Regions from separate parts of the Homo sapiens genome. Here all the other regions are reported to be linked to region 1. Evidence: microRNA targets listed by miRTarBase, many of them from high-throughput screens and not tested one by one. Region 1 holds a microRNA gene; each other region holds the end of a gene's coding sequence.
The links. The annotated mature microRNA hsa-miR-545-3p reads UCAGCAAACAUUUAUUGUGUGC and lies in region 1 at 3,119-3,140, opposite strand. An mRNA with a match to its seed (bases 2 to 7 or 8) in the 3' UTR can be bound and repressed. Matches are read on the target gene's strand: a 7mer-m8 pairs with bases 2 to 8, a 7mer-A1 pairs with bases 2 to 7 and ends in A, and an 8mer does both.

Region 2: the mRNA of PDCL3 is a reported target of hsa-miR-545-3p. The part of its 3' UTR that is shown has no 7-base or 8-base seed match.
Region 3: the mRNA of GRAMD2B is a reported target of hsa-miR-545-3p. Seed matches in the 3' UTR shown: 7mer-m8 at 4,329-4,335 and 8mer at 3,627-3,634.
Region 4: the mRNA of LSM11 is a reported target of hsa-miR-545-3p. Seed matches in the 3' UTR shown: 7mer-m8 at 2,614-2,620.

Annotation. Positions count from the first base shown.
Region 1 is chrX:74,284,008-74,289,184 of GRCh38, forward strand. MIR545 (microRNA 545) reads right to left here and starts at 3,202; the gene lies at 3,097-3,202. All of the region lies in intron 1 of FTX (FTX transcript, XIST regulator), which reads right to left. MIR374A (microRNA 374a) reads right to left here and starts at 3,350; the gene lies at 3,279-3,350. It overlaps LOC124905199 (a long non-coding RNA gene), which reads right to left. Exons shown (of 2, transcript XR_007068266.1): 2 at 3,858-5,177. RefSeq lists an enhancer at 1-312.
Region 2 is chr2:100,575,892-100,580,891 of GRCh38, forward strand. PDCL3 (phosducin like 3) reads left to right here. Exons shown (of 6, transcript NM_024065.5): 6 at 463-848. The coding sequence ends at 605. It also overlaps the pseudogene LOC124906187. Among named protein-coding and RNA genes, the nearest start is that of PDCL3, 15 kb to the left of the region's middle.
Region 3 is chr5:126,492,507-126,497,506 of GRCh38, reverse strand. It overlaps GRAMD2B (GRAM domain containing 2B), which reads right to left. Exons shown (of 14, transcript NM_023927.4): 14 at 3,143-4,592. The coding sequence ends at 4,551. Among named protein-coding and RNA genes, the nearest start is that of GRAMD2B, 72 kb to the right of the region's middle. RefSeq lists an enhancer at 4,210-4,765.
Region 4 is chr5:157,754,725-157,759,724 of GRCh38, forward strand. It overlaps LSM11 (LSM11, U7 small nuclear RNA associated), which reads left to right. Exons shown (of 4, transcript NM_173491.4): 4 at 130-5,000. The coding sequence ends at 540. Among named protein-coding and RNA genes, the nearest start is that of LSM11, 14 kb to the left of the region's middle.

The sequences.
Region 1 (5,177 bases):
AAAAAAAATCAGCCAGAATCCCAGAAAAGTTTAACACTTGGGGTATGTTCATCCAACAACTTCCATGTACATACACAAACATGAATTCTTATTTTACAATGATTAGATGAAACTATACTATTGCCCTTTAGCCCTTTTTCAATTAATATACTGTATACTTCTTTCCAAGTCAAATATTTATCTTCAAGACTATTTTTATTTTTAATGGCTATGCTGTCCCATTACATGAATACACCAAAATGTATTTAACCAAGTTCCTATTCATGACTAGGTAAGTTTTTCCATTATTTACTGTTATGAACACCGTGAATATGCCCATATCTAAATCTTTTTTTAAATAATGTTAAACATATATTTGGGGGTATATCCCTATAAATGAATACAAATCTTACAGTGTAAGAGATTTGCAAAGATCAGTAAAACACATCTCTACCCTTGAGTTTAAATCAAAGGAGAGAGACACAAACAGGTAACATTTACCATTATCATGTCCATGGATAAAGATAAACAAAATTTCATGGTGCTTCCTAATTGAAACTGCAGCTGTTGCTAACAGAAAAGGCTCAAAGAATACTATTAGACAGTAGCCCAAATTAAAATTCCATTTGCTAGAATTCCAAAGTTATTCTAATGCTAAATATTGCCTCATTGGCATTTCAATATGACATTGTTGTTTCTCCTTTAGCAAGCCTTAAAGGAGAGAACCAAGCAGAAGCTGCTCAGAAAACCACCTACCCTAAAGGCAGAGAAGTGAGTAAGGTGCAGGGCAGTATATGACACTGGACCTGGACTTCCATCTTTCCTTCCCCCTACTATTTCCAGTAAACAACAGTGAGCTATAGCCATTTTCTTTCAGAAACAACGTGGATTCTCTCCCTGGGACTCTCATTCCTGCACAGATCTGCTTACACATAGTTGGGCTGTGCTGGTATTCATGCTGACTTAGAAGACAAAAATAAGAATGAAAAGAAGCTTTTTCAGCACCATGATGGGTCAGATACAGATGACATTAACACAGAAGACAGACAGATTTTTAAAACCTATTCAACAAAGATGAGTTACTGTGATAACACAAACAGTCCTGAATCTTATAGTAACATTTCAGTCACAGGCGCATATACAATGGTGGTCCCATAAGATAATAACACCACGTTTTTACTGTACCTTTTCTATGTTAGATATGTTTGGATATACAAATACTTACCACTGTATTCCAAATGCCTACAGTATTCAATACAGCAACATGCTGTACAGGTTTGTAGCCTAGGAGGAATAGGCTATACCATATAGCCTAGGTGTGTAGTAAGCTATACCATCTAGGTTTGTATAAGTACACTCCCCTATGATGTTCACACAACAACAAAATGACTTAATGATCCATTACTCAGAACATATCCTGTCTTTAAGCAACACATGACTGTATAGTTAAATGTTAATTATAAAATCTAGGTGTTGGGTACATGGCTTTTCACCGTACAATTCTTTCAACTTTTCTGTATGTATGTTTGACAACTTTCACAATACAATTTTGGGAAAAATCCAGCAAGCAGCTTTAAAAATATGGCTGTAAGACCTTTCCTTCTATTATATTTTATTCCTAGGATGATCCTATCCAACGAGATGAACCTATTCAGTGTTTCCTCCATTTTGTTTTAGATTTAGCTTTCTCAAATATGACTTTGAGCTCTCCGACTTTTTAATGAAGTGAAATGAATCAACATGTATTCATAGGCAGGTTACCAAGATAGTACATGTAAAGTTGGGGAGGCACAAGGGGAGGGGCTCTAAGCTCTTGGAAGTCTAGGCTCACTATCTGTATACATCTAAATAAATGAGTATTTCAGACACCCCACTTCTTCATTTAAAAATTAGTGTTAGGGACCCTCTAAACATTTGCCTCAGCTTACCTTTCTGCCTTATCTCACATTAAGTCCTTATTTCCCATATTCTCATTGCAAAGAACTGTGTAGGAAGGAGGGGGGCAAGGACGAAGGCACCAAAGCATGCTATGTCCACGTGCTTCAAGTTTGAATATAATAAAAGGTATTTCTAGAGTAGAGGTTCAAAGCTTGATGTTGAAGGGCAGGGTATAACTGACTGACTGCAGGACCCTGGGGGAGGTCTTATAATCTTCTACTTTAAAACATGTCTTAGCTGGCTTATCTGTAAAAGAGGAAAAAGACTTGTCACAAGCAATGACAAATGAAGTAAATAAATATGAATTTCTGGTCTGGTGAATGGAATGAGAAATGAAACCATCACTGTCGAGTGATGATCCAGAGTGGGCACAGATCTTTTTCTACAAAGGCTTTGTGGGCCACAATGTCTCCAATATATTTAATGGCAAAAACAGCAACTACTTTTGCACCAACCTAATAGCTACTTAATTGTGCCACTGGGCCGCAAAAGCGGCCCCAGGTAAAACATCGATGAATGAACATGGCTGTGTTCCAATATAGAATGGTATTTACAAAAACAGGTAGCCCATGGGCAATAAAGTTTGCCCACCCTTGGTTTAGAATATGGAGTCTGGTTGGGTGCAGTGGCTCACACCTGTAATCCCAGCACTCTGGGAGGCTGAGGGAGGTAGATCGCTTGAGTCCAGGAGTTCAAGAACAGCCTGGGCACCATAACGAGACCCCTTCTCTACGAAAAATACAAACATTAGCCAGGGGTGGTGGCACACACCTATAGTCCTAACTCAGAATGCTGAGGTGGAAGATCACCTGAGCCTAGGAGTTCGAGGCTGCAGTGACCCGTGTTCGCACCATTGCACTCCAGCCTGGGCAACAGAGTGAGAACCTGTCCCTTAAAAAAAAAAAAAAAAGAAAGAAAAATGCAAAGTCCTATCTAAGAATACTATTTGGATGATTACCTGGGCCCTGAGGATGAGGCCCCAATCTAACAGTTATCACTCAAGTCCCACCAAGAAAGCAAGTGTCAGCAATAGCAACAGTTGCAACATCTGTAAATATCAAGGACTGAAATCCAAACACAAAAATGGCATTGTCTCATGAGAAACTCTTAGGAAGATATATACAGAAATATCAAATTTCTGACCACATGCTTTTTGAAGAAACAGCTGACAATCCAGAGCCTGTGGAGCTCACTTTAGCAGGCACACAATAAATGTTTGCTGATGAGTCATTCATTTATTCATCTAATAAACATTTACTGAGGCCTACTAATGTGCCAGGCTGGGCTCTGGAGATGAAGACACCTTCCTTGCCCTCAAGGAGCTCACAGTCTAACTGATAACAGGAAGAGAGACAGGCATATACACAGACAATTACAATACAATCTGATAAGTGCTATAACACTTATCAGGTTGTATTATAATGGCCGATGTAAAATTTCTTCCCAGGGGGTGCTGCTCCAGGCTGCTGCTGGCTGTAACATCAAGAGAGGTGAGGAACAAATTATAGAAATCAAAGGTTAAATGCTTTTCGGTTATTTCAAATATTCAGGCTTTCCCTAACCCGTGGCCATAGACGGAATTGGGAACTAGACACTGGCATGATGTAAAATGGGACTTCCATGCACAGACTTCCAATAAAGGAACTTCTCAATCCCCTCCTCTAAAATATGAGCTTTTTTTTTTCCTTTTTGCTTATACTCCTCTTAACCTCCCCACCCTACTACCCACATGAGCCTGGTTTAATATCTACAGCTAGCAAAATGCTGAAAAATGGGAGCTTACAACTAACTGGATTAACCCAGTGTAACCGGATAGCAAAAAGCAGTAAGTAATAGCTCATTTGGCACTTCTAAATCCAATAATCCTCATCCTTCACTGGAAAAAAAAAGTTAGAATGTTATTAAATACAAAATAGATAATATACAGATCAGAGTAGGAATAAGTTAGAAAAGTTTATTTAATAAACATAATTAAACAGATTCTCTAAACTAGAAATAACATTCAGTTTCAGGAAACCAGAATTAGACCCCTCCAAGACCTTTGAGAATATCTAATTCACCTATGTATTATAAACAAGAAAAATGAAACAGAGAGATAACACACTCTGCCCACTCCCTTTTCAAAATCATGTGAGTGATAGTAACAGACTCCTTGAGGCAAGATTATTACTGTAATAGTTATTTGGTTCAGATGGTTTTATACAAAGATAAGATGGCATTTTTCTGTGCCTCATACCTTTCTTAATAATACCTAGGTTTTTACTGGCTTTTTTGTCTCTGACCAGCAAATAGGGCTGATAACATCAGCAAGTTGTTGACAGTTATACTGAGATCACTGTTTTGGGACCCAATGTCTCTATGAGGCTGTTATTTAATAAGCTTAACATACTATTTTCCCCTAAAGTTATTTCACTGCTCTTGCCTATACACTGTTCCTTTCTGCCAATTAGCCCACTCCTGGTGCCTTCTCACATGCTAGCGTGTTCCTATTAGCATTTCACATCCCCAAAGCATTTAACAGTATGTATAAATGTGGACACTTCAATATTGCCCATATCCTCCCTCAGACCACTCAGAAATATTTAAAATAAGACCAGTCCCTGAATGGATGGGGGAGAAGGGACCGCTGTTTTGTTTCTTGTCTAAATTAGTTTCTCATTAGGGACAAAATGTTGCCCTGTCTTCTCCCCATGCCCAGAGCCAGGAAGCACCACTGTTGTACAGTACTCAAAAGTGCTTTCCTTTTAGATAAAAAGAAATGGATTTCTGTTTAAAGGTCAGACAAGGCTGGGTAAGGTGGCTTATGCCTGTAATCCCAGCACTTTGGGAGGCGGAGGCAGAAAGATTGCTTGAGCCCAGGAGTTCGAGACCAGCCTGGGCAAGACCTCCACTCTAAAAATAAAAACAAAAATAAGATAGAGGTCAGACAAATGTTATCTCAAAATGGCTACCAAGAACCAGACATGTATCCACACAGCAGTTATATTTGGAATTGCAAACATTTCTTCAGACTCAATGGCAACAAATATTACTGGGAGCATATCTGCAACAAACGACATTTGCAACTTACAAATAACATTCAGGCACAAATTGAATAATTCACAAAAGGAAATAAGAGCTAGTAATTAAGATCTAAAAGTCCAGCCTCACTAATAATCAGAGAACTGTATCACAAAACAAAGATATCGGCCAGGTATGGTGGCTCACCCCTGTAATCCCAGCATTTTGGGAAGCCGGGGTGGGAAAATCACTTGAGCCCA
Region 2 (5,000 bases), not on the chromosome of region 1:
AGGTTTATTCTTTGTATTTTTGAGACAGGGTCTCGCTCTGTCGTGTAGGCTGGAGTGCAGTGACATGATCATGGTTCACTGCAGCCTTGAACTCCTGGGCTCAAGCGATCCTGCCACTTCAGCCTCCCAAACAGCTGGGATTATAAGCACACACCACCACTGTACCCAGTGAATTTTTATGTTTTATTTACTTTTATTTTTATTGTTGAGACAGTCTCACTGCTGCCCAGGCTGGAGTGCAGTGGTGTGATCTTAAATGTCTGCAACCTCTACCTCCCAGGCTCAGGTGATCCTCCTGCCTCAGCCTCCCAAAGTGTTGGGATTACAGGCGTGAGCCATTGTGCTGGGCCAAATTTCGATAATTGTATTTTCTACTTAGAAAAAACTAGGTTGATGGACTTAGGGCGAGGGAACCTTTGCAGCACAGTGCCTTAGGCAATTTGCTTTTTCTTTACCATATAGAGTTGGAATGGAAACTGTCTGAATCTGGAGCAATTATGACAGACCTGGAGGAAAACCCTAAGAAGCCGATTGAAGACGTGTTGCTGTCCTCAGTGCGGCGCTCTGTCCTCATGAAGAGGGACAGCGATTCCGAGGGTGACTGAGGCTACAGCTTCTATCACATGCCGAACTTTCTTGTGACAAATTGTCTGGATTTTTTAAAAAAGGAAAAAGCAAGAATGAATCCTTGTGGTTTTTAGTTTTGTATAAATTATGTTTCAAATCTTTACATTTTGGAAATAATCATTGCTGGAGATTCTGTTAAATATTTTGGAACTCTTTTTTTTTTTAAATTATAGTATTTCCTCTAAAAAAAATTAAAACCAGCCATTTGTATGGCAAATGTCTGTTTTCCTCATTTATATTTTAAGTAAGCCATAAAACCTAGTCACTATTTTTTGACATATAACTATAAAAAGAAATACAGTTTTAAATGTGAATAAATTATACAGTGGAAAATTGCAGACTAAGCCTTATAGATACATTGTTTATTTTTATTTTATAAAGAGAGCAGTGAGATTATTAAACTACAGGAATGGTCTCTAGGACAAAAGAATGTTAGTATTGAAGAAACAGACAATTTTTGTGAAACATTCCCTTATTGAAGCAATAACTGAAAGTTTCCAGTTTACTGCCATATTTGGTTAAATGTGTTTTCTTGTTAAAATAGTTTATCTCAGACTGTTAACTAATTTTTTTTTTTTTTTGAGATGGAGCTTTTCTGTGTTGCTGAGGCTGGAGTGCAGTGGCACAATCTCAGCTCACTGCAACCTCCACCTCCCGGGTTCAAGCAATTCTCCTGCCTCAGCCTCCTGAGGAGCTGGGATTACAGACGTGCACCATCACGCCCATCTAATTTTTGTACTTTTAGCAGAGACGGAGTTTCATCATGTTGGCCGGGCTGGTCTCGAACTCCCAACCTCAAAACTCCTGATCCACCCGCCTCGGCTTCACAAAGTTTTGAGATTACAGGTGTGAGCTACCATGCCTGGCCTGTTAACTAATTTTGATTACTATAAGAAGACATTAAATTTATGGAAATATATAAGCATACACATAAATAAACTGTTAATAAACTCATTTTGTGGTTCATAAGTACGATCACGTATGTGAGATGTGCCCCCCTCAAATATCGTTAGGCTGTTGGCACATTACCCATATGACATGAAAAAACAACGTATCAAGATGTTTTGTGAGCCAGATCCTGTATTTCTCACTTAACAAACATTGATACTGAACAATTAGGAAATATTATTTTCTGATATTTGTGTTGAATGATGTATTACTTAGTGCTGGTTTGAATCTGAAATAAGAATCAGCATGGATTTCTTTTAGATTATGTTGTAAAATTTATTTTTGCTTTAATTCAAAGAATGACAAGCAACTTGGACCCATTTTATCAGAAGTATCTGTCTTAGATATTTGGATTCCACCCCCTCCTTTTTTTTTTTTTTTTTTTTAAATAGAGATGGAGTCTCCCTGTGTTACCCAGGCTGGTCTTGAGCTCCTGGGCTCAAGTAATCCTGCCATCTTCGACTCCCAAAATGTTGGGATTACAGGTGTGAGTCACTGCACCCCGCCCACATACACTAGAGCCAGCACTGCCAATAACATATTCCCTGGTGGTGTACTTTGAAAGTGTTTCATGGAATTGCAGGGTTGGAACAAATTTGGTCAGTCCTCTTACTTGGATGCTGGTTCCGTGGGGTTTGTAGGAGAGCTACCTTCTTAGATTTTGGTCTTGGTAGCTGACATGAGATCTTGAGGGAAGAGCAAAGGTGGAAAGTTCAATTCTGCATGTGCCTGAGAGCCTTAATGTGCACATTTACAAAGAAAAAAAGGTGGTGCATGAACAGGGGGCAGCGTCCACAGTGACAGATAAGAGCTTGAGTCCACTATGAAGCCCACACAGGATCTAATTCTAAATTATTAGCTGTGCCACTTCAATCAAAGTGTGAAAACTGCACCTCATAATTTTGTCTGCACACCAGATGAAGGCATTTAGTTCGAGCACAGCAAAAGCTCAGGTGCCTGTGGCATTGGCAAATGAGCCCTGATTAATTCTCGGAGACTTCCCTGTAATACTATTATCTTCTTTCTAATTCCTTTGGCACATTAGTGATACGACAGAGGTGTAAGACTTGGTGCTTAAGCACTGAGTTCCCCCAGTTCCACAGCAGGAACACAGCAGTGACCAGTGGGGGACACAAGGACACCTGGAAGCTGTCTTCTGTGCTTGGAGGGAAGGGTTGTGGGGAAAGGTTAAGCCGGTGCTAGGTAGCCACCCCCCCGCCCCCACTTTTTTTTTTTTTTTTTTGAGACAGGGTCTCCAGTTGCCCAGGCTGGAATGCAGTGGCATGATCTCATCTCACTGCAGCCTCAACTTCCCAAGTTCAAGCGATTCTCCCACCTCATCCTCCTGAGTAGCTGGGACTACAGGTGAGCACCACCATACCAGGCTAATTTTTTTTTTTTTTTTTTTTTTGTATTTTATGTTGAGACAGAGTTTCACCATGTTGCCTGCCTGGTCTCAAACTCCTGGGCTCAAGCGATCCACCCGCCTCAGCCTTCCAAAGTGCTGGGATTACAGTTGTGAGCCACTGTGCCCGGCTGGGGTAGCCCTTTCTTAAGTGATTGGTGGGAAATGGTTCCAGAAAATTGGGATAATAAATGATTGGGAATAGTGAAATTGATAGGATTGTATAATCAAATACTTCCTTCTTTTGTGGAGGAGAGAAAGGATGTGGATAGATGACATACACCTCCTTCATTGCACACCTAACTTCACCTTCTCACGCCCTGAGTCATTGCTTCTGCAGAGACCTACAGCTGAGCCGCTTCCTGGTGGTTCAGAAGGACTTCAGAAAGTTGCGCTGGGCTGGGCGAGGTGGCTGATGCCTGTAATCCCAGCACTTTGGGGGGCCAAGAGGGGCAGATCACCTGAGGATAGGAGTTTGAGACCAGCCTGGCCAACATGGTGAAACCCCAACTCTACTAAAAATACAAAAAATTAGCAGGGCATGGTGGCACAACGCCTGTAATCCCAGCTACTTGGGAGGCTGAGGCAGGAGAATCACTTAAACCCGGGAGGTGGAGGTTGCAGTGAGCCAAGCACACCACTGCACACTCCAGCCTAGGTGCCAGAGTGAGACTCTGTCTCAAAAAAAAAAAAAACAACAAAAAAAAAAAACAGTTCTGCTGGCTATGAAAGGCATCTATGAGAGAGATGGAAGGGCAATTTAGAAGGGTGTCCCTCTGTCATCAGGGAGGGCCAAAAGTTTTTTTTTTTTTTTTTTTGGCATTTATTACCTCCAGCTTTAAACTCAACCTTCTTATATAATCCCAAATATATATATATATATATATATATATTTTTTTTTTTTTGAGACGGAGTCTTGCTCTGTTGCCCAGGCTGGAGTGCAGTGGCGTGATCTTGGCTCACTGCAAACTCCGCCTCCTGGGTTCACACCATTCTCCTGCCTCAGCCTTCCGAGTAGCTGGGACTACAGGCGCCCTCCACCACGCCCCACTAATTTTTTTGTTGTTGTTGTATTTTTAGTAGAGATGGGGTTTCACCGTGTTAGCCAGGATGGTCTTGATCTCCTGACCTCGTGATCCACCAGTCTCGGCCTCCCAAAGTGCTGGGACTACAGGTGTGAGCCACCGCGCCCAGCCTATAATCCCAAATCTTGACCAACTACCTTTCAGGTATGGCAGGCAACAAGTGTTGTGACTGCAGCGCCTGCGTGAGAAACATGCTCCCATGAAAGGGGCCGGGTACAGTGACTCACACCTGTAATCCCAGCACCTTGGGAGGCCGAGGTGGGTGGATCACCTGAGGTCAGGAGTTCCAGGCCAGCCTGACCAACATGGTGAAACCCCATCTCTACTAAATACAAAAATTAGCTGGGCATGGTAGCGCCCTATAATTCCAGCTACTTGGGAGGCTGAGGCAGGAGAAGTGCTTGAACCTGGGAGGTGGAGATTGCAGCGAGCCAAGATTGCGCCACTGCACTCCAGCCTGGGCAACAAGAGTGAAATTTTGTCTCCAAAAAAAAAAAAAGAAAGTGCTTTTGTCCTGCTTACAGAAACCAGCTATTACTCACAGATATAACCTTAGAGACAGGTGGCTGTCAGTCTCAAGTGAAGATGTGCCTGTTTCCAAGTCCCCTCCCTCCCTCTCTGCTTTTGACCACATTCTCTACCCCATTCTTTGCTTCAGTAATCATCCGTCTTGATTTCCGCTTCTCCCTGGACATGGGGCCTTCAGGTAGTAACAGTGTTAGGGTCCTGTGGCAGAGAGTGCTGGTTGCCCACCAGTATCCAGGATTCTCCCCCTCTACTCCAGTGGCAATGGGACCCGCTGGAAGAGTAAACCCCGGCCTCTCTTGAGCTGTGGGTGGTTGGCTGGGAGTTCAGTTCTGGGCAAGCTGCTACTAGGAGGAACAGACAACTGTCATGTGCCCTTTGTGGGCTTAACCCCCTTCCTTCTACTTTCT
Region 3 (5,000 bases), not on the chromosome of region 1:
ACTTTGGGAGGCCGAGGCGGGCAGATCACTTGAGGTCAGGAGTTCGAGACCAGCCTGGCCAACATGGTGAAACCCCATCTCTACTAAAAAAACAAAAATTAGCAGGGCATGGTGGCAGGTGCCGTAATCCCAGCTACTCAGGAGGCTGAGGCAGGAGAATTGCTTGAACCCGGGGGCAGAGGTTGTAGTGAGCTAAGATTGCACTACTGCACTCCAGCCTGCGCAACAGAGTGAGACTGTCTCAAAAACAAAACAAAACAAAAAAACAAAAATGATCCATTGAGATAGTGAGTTTGTCTGTGAGAAGCAAGGGCCATTTTTCCCTTCCACTTTTCATTACCACATACTGTGATTATTGGTATGGTGGATGCTCCGTGTGTGTGTAGACAGAAAAAAAGAGGCACTACATAGAGTGGTTAGAAACAGAGATAAGAGAAACTACAAGAGATAAACAGAATCAGGTCTCCAGTTTTTTGTTTTTTTTTTTTCAAATTAGAAAAGGGCTTAGCATCTAGACACAACAAAGAAGTGCTGGAAATTCAGTGATCAAAGATACTTCATGTAACGACTCTGGTGTTTTTTTTTTTTTTTTTTGGCAAGAATATGGTAACATGATGGTAATTAGCAGGGAGAGGTGTAAAAGAAGCATATGAAAATAATATTATATCACTGGGCTTCTTTGTCAGTGGGTCAGGTTATGACCTCAAATGGCAGTATAACTATTACTGATGTGTAGAATTTTGACTTAAAAAAATGCTTGAGAGTAAAATCACCTGAGCTATCCATAATGCATTAGTGTCCATATCCTTTAGATCACCAGAAACAAAAAAATAAGAAAGCATCACCTGAATTTTACTATTGTTAGGATATACAAATCAAAATAGCATAAAAGATAACTCATATTTAAGTCAGAATTTTTGTTTTGGCCTGACTCCATGAATTTATGAAATTGTGTAAGGCAAGGAAAAGGCATTTAAAAAATGTCTCTGGGCTGGGCGAGGTGGCTCACATTTGTAGGTGGATTGTTTGAGCCCAGGAGTTCAACACCAGCCTGGGCAACATGGAAAAACCTGTCTCTACTAAAAATACAAAAAATTAGCTGGGTGTGGTGGTGTGCACCTGTAGTCCCAGCTACTTGGGAGGCTGAGGCGAGAGGATAGGTTGGGAGGTAGAGGTTCCAGTGAGCCGAGATTGCGCCACTGTACTCCAGCCTGGGCGATGATAGAGTGAGACCCTATCTGAAAAAAAAAAAAAAGTATCTTGGTTGGTTTCAAGGAATTGCATAAATGAATACCTGGGAAATGCTTTGGAGTATTGTGGAGTATATATAGGAAGGTATCTTAAATGTTTACAAAGTTTGAGAGGGCAACAATAATAATAATAGCATTTCCAGCTTATGGAAGATTGGTAATTTCTATTCACCAAAATAGTATGTATTTAATTATATTATAAAATATTAGAGTGCATAGAAATAGTATTACAACTGATAATCTTTTTAAGATTACACGTTTTGAAGGGCCAAATATATTGTGGACATTTGCTATTACTTTGGCCATTCAGCATCTGAAACCCCATGTTAGAATTCCCATTTATAACCTAGTTGGTAGAGGCGTAAAAATCCCAGATGCTTGCTTTCCCTCGCTTTGTAGTTAGTATGCAGGCTTATAACCTGGATTTCACCATTCGGATCTAGCTGCACCAGATTTTCACTTGGAAGCTAGTAAAGGAAAACCAAACAAACAATAGTATCCGCAAAGAAACAATAACTAAACCTAGGAATGGTGGAGCTGTCTTTCGCTCTGGATGAGTCAACTGTAGTGGTTGATGGAAAATAAAGTTTCAGTTAAAGAACTAGCAGCCATGTTGTGGGGGGTGGGAGTTGTGAGTTCTGATTCCTTGCAGAGAGCCACCTAATCTTGTAAATTAACTTATCTGATTAAAAAAAGGTAACGACTTCATTATACAAAACCTGTAGGATACAGAAAAGGTGTGTGGGCTTCTGTGTGTATGTATGTATGCATATACATATAAATATATATATATATATATATACACACACACATTGAGGGTTTTCTTCTTAAAGTTGGGATCATACCCTATAGTTTTATGTCTTTTAATGCAATTTTCGATATTTTCTATGCCTTTCTTTGACAATGCAATTTTAAATAACTGCATCATTTAACTGTTCTTCTATTGAATATTTAGACTCTCTAATATTTTGCTGTCAGAGGTTTCAAAGAATATTCTTGTATATAAACTTTACTATACTTCTGATTGTTGCTTTAGGATAAATTCCTAGATGGCAGATTACTAAAACTGAGTGAAATCTGAGGCTTTTTAAAGCTCTTGATATGGTTATAAAGTTGTTCTCCAGAGGTGGCTGACCCACTCTTGAATCACTAATGGGTTTTGAATAGAAAGTGCTGACACTGAACTTTAATAAAACTGTAATGTCAGACATAAATTTTTTTTTTTTTTGAGACAGAGTCTCGCTCTGTCGCCCAGGCTGGAGCGGCAGTGGCATGATCTGGGCTCACTGCAACCTCCACCTCCTGGGTTCAAGTGATTCTCCTGCCTCGGCCTCCCAAGTAGCTGGTACTACAGGTGTGCAAAAATATTTTTTAAAATAATGACTATTGTAGCTGTTATGAAAGCATACTACTTGCCTGACATGGCTATGTGCTTTAGAGACATCATCACATTGACTGATTGATTGACTGAGACAAGGTCTTGCTTTGTCACTCAGGCTAGGGTGCAATGGTGTGATCGTGGCTCACTGCAGCCTCAGTCTCCCAGACTTCAGCAATTCTCCTGAGTAGCTGGGACTATAGGCATGCATCACCACACCTGGCTAATTTATTTTTATTTTTAGTAGAAATGGGATCTTGCTGCGTTGTCCAGGCTGATCACAACCTCCTGAGCTCAAGCAGTCCTCCTGCCTTGGCCTCCGAGAATGCTGGGATTATAGGCATGAGCCACTGCACCTGGCTGACATTATCACATTTAATCCTCACACTGATACTTTTTACTGGTACTTTCAACCTCATCAATAAAATGGGGGGATATGGCCAAATATTTTGCTAAAGGTCACATAACTCATAAATGTGGACTGAGGAATGAAGCATTGTCTTTTTTTTTTTTCTTTTTTTTTTGACTTCAAAGTTCATTTTCTTTCCTTTAAACCGTTGTAACCCAAGAACTTAAATCCTTTTTTAGTTTTGAAATGATTACTTGGGAGGAAGGAAGTATAAGTGAGTTGGTAGTAGTAGATGGCAGGTGGAAAAAGAGTTAAAAAGCATAGTTAAGTCTTGGTTAAAGGAATTTACGAACTGACAAAACACAGTGTTAGCAGGGTGTTTCAACCAATGAGTATTTATTAAAAGCCAGAGGTGCACCAGGCACAGCTGTCCACTAGGCCAACAGATACAAACGATGTAACCAATTCGCTTATTAGCTTATCTGATTAAATAAAATACATTTCATAGAAATGATTATCAAATGCATTGCAGATAGAAACAGAATATCCTTTGTACTTACAGATCTTATGATACCCTAAACAATTATTAATAAAAACCAGCCAACCCATATGGTAAATAGTTAGCAAACCACCAGTTATTTTATTTTAGTCAGCAAAGGATAAAAACATACAAATTTCATGCTGAAAGGGATTTTAGCATTATTGAATGCTGAATACAGACATCCTGCTTGAAAACTACTAACATAGTCCACCTACAGTCTTAAAAATTCAGTGTTTTTCATCCTGTATTAAATCACTATTACACCTTTTGGCTTAAAAATTAGGTTTGGTTTCAAAATAAGTTTAATTTAGTACTTCAGTCACATGCCTCACAGATTCTTGACCAGGGCTGGGTAAGAATCAGTCCAATTAACTATTAGTTACAGCAACAAAACAAAACATAAACATAATGTTAAATTCACCTTGCTTGATATTCTTGCCAAAAAGGAATTGAGAAATTAAGACACACAGGTGATTTCAACCAGAACATAACAGGAGAACTGAAAAAAAAAAGACAAAATGTAGATGTTACTTGTTTGAAGCAAACCTGTCCACTTAGAGCCATTTATTGCCTTTTTGAGACTCATGGCTAATTCTTGAAAGGACCACATTGAGTTTGTCAGTATATGATGTATCCTTTAGTTTGAAAGTCGTTAAGAGGGGTGTAAGGGAGAGGCAGGAGGGCGGGAAGGACTAAAAAGGCACAGGGTGGAGTGTTTGCTGACGCCATCGTGGTAATTATCCAAGAGAGTGTGTTCGCTGGGCCCTTCCTGAGACCTCCAGAGATGGGTCTGTTTTCTTCAGGCAAAAGCAGCAAAATCTTCCTCAGAGAGTCAAGGTCAACTTTTATTGCACAAGAACCAAAATTATTTCCCTCCTCACTTTCCTGAGCTGGAGACCTCCACATGCAATGTCTGGATTCTCATCTGCTTGCACCTCTGACCAGCAGGGTGCACTCAAACAAAACGCCTCAGGAAGCACCTTCTTCAAAGGGAAACATGAGGTATTCCGATGGCCCAAGCAATCTGGTCGATCAGTCACCATTCTCAAGCAACTTCTGTAAGTTATTTTGTATCTTGAAATAAAAGAAAAGAAGTTCCTATTATTAAATAGAATGGAGTATATTAAGGGCATATTTGTTATAGTCTATATAGCATTCTATATTATTCCACTTTGAATAAAAAGCTACAAAAGGGTTAAATTTAGGTGAGGCAAATAGATGCTTTTTCATAGACTAGAACTCTGACAATCCACTTTTTCTTTGGGAAAAAGAAAGGGTCTCGCTCTGTCACCCAGGCTGGAATGCAGTGACGTGATCATGGTTCACTGCAGCCCTGACTTCCTGGGCTCAAGTGATCCTCCCACCTCAGCCTCCCAAGTAGCTGGGACTTCAGGCGTGCACCATCATGCCTGGCTAATTTTTGCACTTTTTGTATACATGGAGTTTCATCATGTTTCTCAGGCTGATCTAGAACTCCTGGGC
Region 4 (5,000 bases), not on the chromosome of region 1:
AACTTTTAAAAAATTGCAAAGCAAGGAGTCCACAGAACATAATTAAAGAATTTGGTCTTTTTCTGTATGTTGAAAGAGGGTGATGAAGGCTAAAGAGAAGGCTAATATTTATCATTGTTTGCTTTATAGCTATTTGATCGGCTGAAACTTCAAGATTCCTCCAAGAAGGAAGCAGATTCTAAGTCTGCAGTTGAAGATTCCACTCTGTCTAGATACTCACAGACATCCACTTGGAAGTTGGCTTCAGTGTGGGGAAGAGCAGACACTGGCCGGGGCTCACACAAGCGTTCCCGCTCTGTCCCTTCTTCCCTGCAGGCCTCTGCAAGGGAGGAGTCCAGGTCAGAGCTGTCAGGGAGGACTACACGGACAGACGGCTCCAGTGTGGGAGGTACCTTTTCCAGGGCTACCACCCTTTCCAGAGGCCAGTCCCGTAAGAAAAAGCGAAAGCCCAAAGTGGATTACCAGCAGGTATTCACTCGACACATAAATCAGATTTTCATTCGAGGCGAGAATGTCCTGCTGGTTCATCTTGCACAGTGACCAGCTCAGCCTGAGCTTTGGTTTTTAGAAATAAAGTGCATGAATTGCTGCTATGCTGTATCCTAGTATCCCAGTGAAACTCTGAGTTGGAATGATTCCCTCTGGTCCTGCATATGCAGAGGACGGAGCAGGCTCAGCCCCCTGGAAGATGAGCTCAAGGGGAGGACAGGCCTTGGGAGGGCAGGCGTTTGCATTAATATCAAGGCAAAAAGCATTCATAGATACATGCATCTGATTTGGTATTGTGATTTACTTCAGACCCTGAAACCAAATATCTGATCTTCCATTAGACTTAGGGGTCATGATATGAGTGGAATTTACATTTTAGATACTATAGGGGAAAGAAAAGTCTCAAAAAGAAGTATTGCATGTCTAAAAGCTAGTGCCCTGAGTACTCATGAATTCGATTCCAAGAGTAGTGGTGTAAATTGCCTTGGAGCCCTGCATCCACGTCTTGTAACTAACTTTTGAATTTTGCCTGACATGATTCTCTCTTGATGAAGAAATGACATATATTATCTTTGAATATCTACAAGGAAAGTTACCAACTTATGTAGGGGTGAAATTTGGATAGGCGGTATGCTCAAAGCAGCCAGCAATGAGTGCTCTGTTTTGATCCTTCTTCTTATTATGGAAAGGAGTACAGGACCTCTTCAGTCTTCCCCTTACCAGAGGTAGCCTCTGCAAATGGCATACCAGATGGGACTCTAAGATGCTTGTGTGGTGGCTTCTTGTCCTTCTCTTTGACTTCTGTGGCATGGTGCTAGTGCATGTACCCTGTGGTATTGCCCCTCTGTCCGTAGTGTGAACTGTCCTGTGAGCTTTATGTCAGGAGACTGTGACCTTCATGTCCAGCTTCAAAGAGTTGTGCATGAACTCGGTAATACACATCACACGGCTGAGAGTCCCCTTTCCAGGCAGGGCCAGCATGTGTAGAATATCTTTCAGAATATGGTTTCACCATGAAACAGGGGTGGTAGATTTATTCCCTTGTGTCAGGCCAAAGAAGTTCTTACAAAGTACAGTGGGTAGTGTCTAAAGCGACACTTTACTCACAGCCTGGCTTGAGTCAACAGGAACACCATAGCACCCACAAATACTTCTACTTGAATCATATTCTGTGCTTTTTCAATCACTAGTGCAGAATAGGCTGCATTTGACACAGACTGTTAGGCAATATTGATTTTTTTGTTTTGTTTTTATTTGGTTTTATCTGAGATAACTTATGTTCAAGGTGAGAATAAGAAATAGCCAACTAGTTAAAATGTATGAAAAGAAAACTTTCCCCTGCTGTATTTGTTGTGTAACATAAATAAGCCTTCTGAGAAGCAGGGTGAATAAAGTTTAGGGAGCTGGGACACCTGGTCCTGCTAGCTGGACCACTGGCTCATCATGCAATGAAAAGGTGAGCAGACTTAACCCCTCCGTGCCTCAGCTTTTTCCCCACAGACACCTACCTCACAGGGGCATTGAGAAAAAAAAAATGAAGGCATTTTACAGTCTCTAAACATCTTTAAGTGCCATGAGTAATTTTTCCTGACTCTGTTTCATAGCTTTGTAAGAATTCTGTGTCTTTATAAGACACAGAAGCAAGGCAGGTGCTACATAAAAAAGTAATCTCAGCCAGGCACGGTGGCTCACGCCTGTAATCCCAGCACTTTGGGAGGCTGAGGCGGGTGGATCACAAGGTCAGGAGATCAAGACCATCCTGGCTAACACGGTGAAACCCTGTCTCTACTAAAAATACAAAAATTAGCCGGGCGTGGTGGCGGGCGCCTGTAGTCCCAGCTACGTGGGTGGCTGAGGCAGGAGAATGGGGTGAACCCGGGAGGCGGAGCTTGCAGTGAGCCAAGATTGCACCACTGTACTCCAGCCTGGGCGACAGAGCAAGACTCTGTCTCAAAAAAAGGAAAAAAAAAAAAAGTAATCTTAGGGTTCATAGTTATGATCCTGTTGTAACTATCTTCGGAAGGCAGCAGTATCTTCTGGAACTTCCATATTCCATTCCTTCCTCCTAAGGGACAATGGAAGTTCTCAGAAGAGTATCTTCAGTAAGAGGAGAGTAACTTTTTTTTTGCTGCTCCCGCTATATCCCAGGCCTCACCCTTTTCTGATCATTATCAGAAAGAATCCCCTGAACTTTTCAAGGGGTTTATATGGTAGCACCAAATGGAGAATGAGCATCTAAAAATGACACATCCCGAAAGGGCAATCTGTGGAAGTTTGTTGTTTGTTTGTTTTTATTTTTAAATGCATTGTAAAGTGTACTCTAGAGCCAGATCAGGTGCACTAAAGTTTATAGAGGTTCCAGTTTACAAACTCAAGTGAACAGTAATCTTTGGAAGCTGCCAGTCTAAATTCTAAATAGTGTATCTGAAATCTCAGTTCCCAAAATAGTTGTCAGGTTTAATCATCAGGCAACACTGCGTATACCTGTGTGGCTATCCTCATCTGCCTGCCCTCTCATCCCTCGGCTAGAATGATGTACTCTACTTTCCCAATAAGGTAGAAATTTGGAATCCAACGGAATATAATCAGTTTTCATTCATTCCAGTGCCTAGTTAAATCTAACCTGACTTAAACATATGCCTGTTTTTATGTTTACCTATAATTTTCATATAGCCGTATAAGGATTGATTTACCATTTTTTGCCCAACATGACAATTCTGGCTATGAAAATTATGTTTAAACTGTGTATGATCTATTTTATGTGCTCTATGTTCCCATTTGTTTGTTTGGTCTGGACAGTGGTTCTGGAATGAATTCTATCTAGTAAATTAGTAAATGTGCTGTTTTGTATAAAGCATGATAATTACTTTTTAACAGAAGTTCATTTTTAAAGATTACTCCCTTTTCTTTCTCTCTTTTTTTTGAGACAATTTCTCTCTTGTTGCCTAGGCAGTGCAGTGGCGCGATCTCAGCTCCCTGCAACTTCTGCCTCCCAGGTTCAAGCGATTCTCCTGCCTTAGCCTCCTGAGTAGCTGGGTCAGCCACCATGGCTGACTCATTTTTTGTATTTTTAGTAGAGAAGGGGTTTTACCGTGTTAGCCAGGCTGGTCTTGAACTCCTGACCTTGGGTGATCCACCTGCCTCAGCCTCCCAAAGTGCTGGGATTACAGGCGTGAGCTATCCCGCCCGGTCCCCTTTTCTTTATTATCGAAGATATTGTTTAAAAGAAAGAAAAAGTAGGTCCCAATAATATATGTGCTATTCAAAAAATGTGATCATTTAGGACATTATCACAAGTTGCTATGGAAATAACTGAAGACTTCCTCAGGAGAAGGAAAGAAAATGAGGAACATAATGATAGAGTCGGGGAACTCCCACTAGCTCACCTGAGGGGGGCTCGATGCAGCTGAAATACTGAATACTGAAATACTAGAAACCAACAAAACTGGTTTCTAGAATTCTCCAGGGATTTGGGCTTGGGAAACTTGGTAAGAATAGTTTTTATTTTTGAACATTCAACTTTGGTTCTTCAAAGTAATCTTTAAACATGGGAATATGTTTTCAAGACAATTTATAGGACATACTTATGTAGTTGGTGAGGTCTTCTCAAAAGTATCTACCTTTGTTAGATAATAACAAGTGATTAAGAAAGGGGAGATATGGTTTTATACTCATAACAATTTCCTGTGCCATTCTCTGTACACAGAGGTGATTCATTTACTCTCCCATTAGTAGAACTTGCACTTTGGGCTGTCTGTTCTAGTATTTGGGAAGTGTTTATGCTTCCTTCCAGGGACCATCTTATGATCAGAGGCAGGATGTCTGTGAGATGGTTAGCTAGAGTTAGCAGTGTCCGGGGAGAGTGGCTTTAGACCAGTCAGTACCTTGCTCTTTGTGCATGGTGCATGTCAAGTCAGGAAGCCAAGAAACCGTTGGCATTAAAATCTAGATGCATAGAGATCCTTGCTATGAGTTGTGGATAGGAGTGGCTCCATCTATCCTTGTGGTGAAAGAGTCCAGGAGCTCCTTTAGAGATTGTCAAGTCCTGAGCGATGAGCTGCCCTTAATCCTCAGAAGCCTTACAAAAATTGAGATGTACCATTTCTACCCTTTGAGAAAAAAGAAATAGAAACTTACTTGATGCAGAATGGATATTTATATTTCTGCTTGCACCATTTCCATAGCAGCTGACAAAGGCAAAATCATGAAATAGAATCATTTCTATAAATTGCTTCTTTAAGTTTTCTCTAAATTTTGCCTCTAGGAAAAAATTAAAACTATTCAATGACAGCTAGCTGTCACTGGTGCTACCCCAAAGCTTTCCAATCTTTTATGTATTTTTTGTGAATGAAACTGTTGCTGTAGGAAAGTCAAGGTTCATGTAAGAGTATCGTGGTGTAAATATAATGGTTTCACAGCTGTTTGAATTTTTCTTTTCCTGTGCCAGATATAGAATGCAGTCAACCCTTTTTCAGTAACTTATGTTCACCAGTCTGTGCTTTTCTTCTCCC